Homo sapiens: one gene and its partner. The protein of the gene in region 1 interacts with the protein of each later gene in a pairwise test. Each region holds a gene or a part of one and is shown on either strand. Other genes may lie near its edges.

Region 1 (4,041 bases):
GAGAAATATGAAAGACGGCTAAAAAGAGAGAAGAAACAATGAAAAAGGAGATGGCTCATGCCTGTAATCCCTTTGGGAGGCCGAGGCGGGTGGATCACGAGGTCAGGAGATCAAGACCATCATGGCTAACAGGATGAAACCCCGTCTCTACTAAAAATACAAAAAATTAGCCGAGCATGGTGGCAGGAGCCTGTAGTCCCAGCTAACTGGGAGGCTGAGGCAGGAGAATGGTGTGAACCCAGGAGGCGGAACTTGCAGTGAGTGGAGATCGCACCACTGCACTCCAACCTGGGCGACAGAGCAAGACTCCGTCTCAAAAAGAAAAAGAAAAAGAAAAAGAAAAAGGACAGAAGGGCAAAAAAGAAACAGGTACAGGGGACATGGAGAGGTGGTCAGGGACACGGATATGGGCACAAGAAAGAGGAGGGAGAGAGAGAGGAGGAAGTTCTTGGCACAGAACTAGTCCTTCTCTACCCTCGATTTATTCTCAAGAAATAAGAAAGTACGTTTTGTTTTGATAGTCACTTAATAGCAACATGAACTGGCAGGTAGGAGAGTGGAGTCAGTGGAAACAGCTGCCAAAGCAGGGGTCATGGAGAAGAACCATAGGCAGGCAACACACACACACTGTGTGTGCTCCGCAACAAAGGTGCCATTAGTCTCAAAGCATAGTGGATCAGTGAGTTGGGCTTATGAATGTTCCCAAGTCTTTTCCACTTCTGACCACATTTTGAGTATGTGTTAATCAAATTCATCTCCTAAATATTTAGTATAAGGCTTTATGTAATGAGTTCTCAAATGCATGTTGCTGAGCCACTGACAGCAGGAAACAAGCTACCTCCCACCAGGAAACCACTAACTAGTTTATATGCCTGTAACACATATCACTGTAATTCTGGGTCCTAACAAAAACCTTTTTCATAAAAACGGGTACCAGTCAGGAAGACCCAAATGCATATTAGGGAAGTAATTATCTATTACTCTCTAGGATACTGATAAAGGAAGGGACTTCCATGTCAATTTCTAAATATTCAAGAGGCCTTGAATATCCCAAGGTGCCTGTTAGGGTCATTATTTTGAAACTAAAAGCAGACCTGGCCTCTTCTGATTAAGAAAGCACACACACACACACTTTTCACTCTGACTGTTGACAATTCAAGCCCATGCACAGTACATGCTTCCTTGGGAATACCTCTCGTGTATATACTCTGGTAGGGCCAGGCCTATAGGGGCATCCTGTTGCCTTCAATGCTGAACTTGACAGCACGATGCACTTTGCTGAGTCGTTTCTGTTCTGCAAATCGCCTCTTATGCTTTTCCAATCGGCTTAGGCCCTTTTTAAGAATACCAGGCTAGAAGTAGTAGTTTGATTGGAGAATAAAAAGAGATTACTGAGAAACACTGAAGATCCACTGAGCAGTATTTACAATGATAACAGAATAAGTGTCTACCCTAATCATTTGCAATGGAATTGCTTAAACCGTTGAAGAGAAAGGGAGAGGTAGGTCTGCTGAAGCACGTAAGCTCTGTTTCTCATGGTTATTAAAAAAAAAAATTCACTGTATCAGAATACTCCAGGTTTCAATTTCAAGCCTTGCTTGAAGTAAAGGGATTAATAAGAAGAAACTTCCCTACCTGATAATGTTGAATTAAGACTGAAGAAAAATTCATCAGCAATAAACTTTAATCCTGGGTAATACTTTTCCTTTCTCTATTGCTCAATTTGTGGTTTGGCTAGATAAGCGACCAGAAAACAGTCCTCTCTGAATCAGACAAACTTCAAGAGCTACAAGGGTTATTAACACATGAAGTAAAGAGTCAAACAGTAATCTGCAGGTGAGATCCACCTTGCCGATCCTCCGCTTGCTTACCCTGGATGACTCCATTTCCACATTCCATTTGGGCCTGACAACATAGTCCTTGTTTGAAGGCATTGGGACCCTTGCACGGGCACAGAATCCAGGATCTCCAGGTCTAAGAGCCCTGAAAAAGGGAAGAGGAAGAGCATGCTTCTTATGTGGCCAGCCACAGTGGGGCACATAGGCCATTTCACACTCCTGTTCCTACATCCACCCATTAAGCTGCAATGTTCGAAACTCCTCTACTCCCCACCAAAGGTCACCCAATCCACCCTCCTGCCGCCTCCCAGCTAGCCTGTCATCACACACACTACAGTATGCATTCCTCACTTCTCTTCCAAAGCCAACTTGCTCTGCATTTGCATGAATCCTTTTCTCCTCTCCTCAGCTTCAGATATACTCATGCCCCTCTGCCTTCCAAGGCTAGTCCCGCCCGCATGACTTGGAATCCCCTTTTCTCTTGTATAGTGGAGTCACTCATGAGTTCACTTGTGAGATGAGGAATTGTGAAGAATTGAGTCGTCAAATGACCCCCAAAACTCCCAGTATGCCTATAAAGTAGTTTTTCAATATACAACTCATACATCAATTTTTAATGTTTATTTTTGTAAAAATCTTTTGAAGATAATTACAGATTCAAATGAAGTTGTAAAAAATGATAGAGAGAGAGATCCAATGTCTCTCCCAATAGCAACAACTTGCGAATCTACAGTATAGTATCACAACCAGGATACTGATGTTGATACAGTACACTAATCTTATTTACACTTCCCCAGTTTTACTTGCACTCATTTATGTGTATGTATTTAGTTCTATGCAAATCCGTGGGTAACCATGCTAGACTAAAATAAGATTACTAACCTTCCAAAGTAAAGCCTATCTATGGATGCCTGGGCATTCAAACCATTCAGCATTTAGGTAACTAGTAAAGAGTGGATCTATGTGTGTCTGCTGGGGATGGGGAGAGAAGGGTAAAAAATTCTCAATTGTTTCTATTCTCTTGTACAGTTTACCCCATTTTTAACCCTAAACTTGAATCTCGCTCTGTTGCCCGGGCTAGAGTGCAGTGGCACAATCTCAGCTCACCGCGAGCTCCACCTCCTGGGTTTGTGCCATTCTCCTGCCCCAGCCTACAAAGTAGCTGGGACTACAGGCGCCCGCCACCACGTCCAGCTAATTTTTTGTATTTTTAGTAGAGATGGGGTTTCTCCATGTTAGCCAGGATGGTCTCAACCTCCTGACCTCGTGATCTGCCCACCTCAGCCTCCCAAAGTGCTGGGATTACAGGCGTGAGCCACCGCGCCCGGCCAACCTTAAACTTTTATAACCTTCATATATATATGAACAGACTAATTGGCTTGCCAAGAAAATTCCCTGTAACTCTTACTTTCCTTCTGAAGCCACGGTCTCATCAACTTCCTTCCTAAACAAACTTTTCCTCTAGCTCATCCCCTATTCTCTTCTTGCAATCGGGATGCTGCCTGACTACCAACACACCTGCACAAAGCCCTCTGCAGCACCTGCCACTGGCCCATGCTTTTGTCATTGCCACCTCCAGCTCAGCCTCATTCCCCTCCAGGCTCTGCTCCAACGCACAGGACCACAGGTGCTCATTCCCCTTCGCTGGCTGCTCTGCCTGGCTATGCCCCCTTTCAAAATTGTTTAGTTCGTTTCTTACTCTATACTCTCTTGATTGAACAATCTTTTCTATGGAGAGAACCATCAAATCTAGGTCTCTAGCCCAAACATCTCTTTACAAGTTCTAGACCCATAATATTTATAGGGCTATCTCATTAGGCATGTCACATTTAATATGCTCAAAAGAGAACTTGCCTGGTCCCTCAAATCTACTTCTCCCTCCATTTTGGTGAAAGGTAATAAACACTGTCTCAGCACTCAGGTTAAAATTTTGGCTGAGGTCTTCAACTCTAGCCATCTTCTCTCCCACTAAGTCACCAACATATGACAGCTTTGCCTCTGCAATGTCTTCTCACCCCTCTGTTTCCCAACTACCACCTCTGTTTAGCTGTATCACTGCCTCAGTCCCACTGCCCTCCAATCCATCCTACATGATGCCATTGGCATCAGCACCCTAAATCAAATCAAACCAGATGGCTTCACATCCAGCCTCAAAAACTTCCTGTGGAATCACAAGACGTGAAAATTCCTCATCTTGATTCAA
Region 2 (2,820 bases), about 43 Mb from region 1:
AGAAGTATAAGTCTTGTAAATGTTTTATGAAAGAATATAAATATTTCCACTAACTTTCACTTCATTTGTTCATTAATTTGGTATATGTGTTCTATTATTTGCCAGGTACTTGTCCAGTTGCTGGGATATTATGAGGAAAATGATAAAGTTCTGCTTCATGGGTGTTACATTCTCTGGCAGGTAGGGAGAAGATGAAATGAACAATTAAACAAGCATTTCAGACACTGATACATGCTGTAAAGAACATACAATGAATGGGCTGGGCACAGTGGCTCACGCCTGTAATCCCAGAACTTTGGGAGGCCAAGATGGGGGGATCACTTGAGGCCAGGAGTTTGAGACCAGCCTGGTTGATGTGGCAAGATCCCATTATCTAGACAAACAAACAAATGATGAATGATATAAAAGTGCCTGAAATGGTGGTAATTTATAGGGAACTAAACATATGAATTCTGGGGCAATAATGTCCATGCACAAATCCAGGCTCTACAAACAAATAGGTGTATGATACTGGACAAATTATTCACCCTGTCTGTGCCTCAGTTTTCTCATCTGTAGAATGGCATAATAATAGTACTTAATGGGGTTGTTGAATTATACAATGTGTGTAGAGCAGTTTGAACAGTACCTGGCACACAGTCCTATGTAAGTGTTTTCAACTATTTTCCTCTCTGAGTAACTCATATATTGAGCTAAGGCCTAAATATTAGGAAGAGTCTTAAGCCAAGAATATAGATAACTTAAAAGAAACTGTACCAAATAAGGAAGAATTAGACTAAAATGTCACTTGTCTTTATATTTGCATGGTATACATTAATGAAAATACATGAAGCTTCAAGTATTGCAGCAACACTCATGATCCATCTTCACCTTCGTCAGAGCTCTCGTCACTCAGCTCCTCATCGCTTTCTCCTTTACTCTCACCACTGCTGTCTTCATCACTGTTTTCACCGTCTTGCTCATGATTCTGAGTTTTCTCTGCCACAGAAAGGAAGAGGATTGCTTAAGGTGTTTCTTAATATTTCACTCTGAAAAATAATTCTCCTTGCCCCTCCCTCTACCAAGAAATACATATATTTGTAACATAAGAACTGAGTTGGACTTGGCTAACTGCACTAGGGTCAAATGGTAGTACAAAGAAGAAATGTATTTTTACTGGCATACAGGTGTTTTTGATAATTTAAAACATAAGTCTATAAAAATAATTTTACTATTGTCAATGAAATTCTATTTAACGATTTCATAGAATTCTTTCTATCATAGAATTTTATTGACAATAGTAAAATTGTCCATTGAAAGGAATTGAGACAAGGTAATTGAGAGGGTGTGGCTTCCCTTGGAATTGTGGGTAATTCCTTTAACACGCAGCCGTGTTAGCATATTCTGCTTGTCAATACCTGATGCCTGGTGCCCAGGGAGCCTGCTCTGCTCGGGCAGTTCTATCCCACAGAGAGAAGGGGGTCATTGTGACCATCCACAGAGGACAAGCTGTTTCACTAAACCATTTAAGACAGCCATTTAGCCTTTTCTTAACCACTTCCTAAAGATGTATCGACAATCTCCCGGGATAATGGGTTTTTAAAGTGACTGCTTATAGTTCTATGAGAAACAAGGAATTTCAATTTTTAAAATTACCCATCAGCAACATTTCTTCAATAAGTGTGAAAAACTCCTTGGCCTCAGGATTTTCTGGTTCATAGATTAGGACTGAAAATGAAAATGGACAACAGAATGTGTGTTATTAACGTTCAGTGTTGCAGCAAACAGGCTCCTTAGAATGAAATTGAACTGTCAGTCAGAGCAGGTGAAAGGCACAATGCAATAAACACTAACAATTATACCACAGGTATATCTGAGTACAAATAGAGAAAATTCTGCACTTCTATTTTGCACTTTGGAAGATAAATGATCCTCACTATATTTTCTTTCTTTCTTTTTTTTTTTTTTTTTTTCCCTGAGACAGGGTGTCGCTCTGTTACCCAGACTGGAGTGCAGTGGCATGATCTTGGCTCACTGCAGCCTCTGCCTCCCGGGTTCAAGTGATTCTCGTGCCTCAGTTTCCTGAGTAGCTACAGGTGTGTGCCACCACGCCTGGCTAAGTTTTGTATTTTTGGTAGAGACAGGGTTTCACCATGTTGCCCAGGCTAGTCTCAAACTCCTGACCTCAGGTGATCCACCCACCTCGGCCTCCCAAAGTGCTGGGATTACAGGCATGAGACACTGCACCCAGCCCTCATTATATTTTCTACCTCCTATCCATAGAAAGCAATCTCTATCACCTCAATATAGCTTCCCTCATAGGACAGTAGCCAGAGTGTTTCATGAACATAATCATTTCCCAAAGAAGGTACAAATTCTGCAAAATATGGAGACTTTGCTAATGAGAAGACTGTGTGCCTAGAGGTCTGTTAATCCTTCATCTCATGTCATCCACCCATCTACATGACATCCTTTACTAAAGGTCTCATCGGAACACAGAGGAAGTTTTTGTTTGTTTGTTTTTAATGCAACCTCTTCCATGCTAGAGATGCCATTTTGTTACATCTTTCCAATAGGGGAACTGATGTTACTTCTTTCTCTTCATCTTGACAACTTTTACTGTAGTCTACACGTTGGTCATTGCCTGCTTAACAACATTCTCCACCTTCATTGGACCCATTGTTTTCAGTACTATTTATTCCTTTCTGCTGATCCTTTATGTCACTGTGTCACCTTTCTTTTGGACCACAACAATAGACTTTTTTAGGCTTGTTAGTATGTTAGCAAAATCCTAGAGGCCAGAAAGATTTATACCCTTAGTTTCAGAGTTGTCTAGACTAT

What was found. The genes of interacting proteins can lie anywhere in the genome.
Region 2: the proteins of IWS1 (region 1) and ERICH2 interact in a two-hybrid assay, tested with the Homo sapiens proteins (one large-scale study listed by BioGRID).

Annotation. Positions count from the first base shown.
Region 1 is NC_000002.12:127,484,682-127,488,722, forward strand, and holds part of IWS1 (protein IWS1 homolog), read right to left. Parts: intron 1,984-4,041; coding exon 1,872-1,983; intron 1,353-1,871; coding exon of another isoform or gene 1,224-1,352; exon of another isoform or gene 1,193-1,223; intron 1-1,192.
Region 2 is NC_000002.12:170,796,928-170,799,747, reverse strand, and holds the end of ERICH2 (glutamate-rich protein 2), read right to left. Parts: intron 1,708-2,820; coding exon 1,636-1,707; intron 979-1,635; coding exon 854-978; 3' UTR 771-853; downstream 1-770.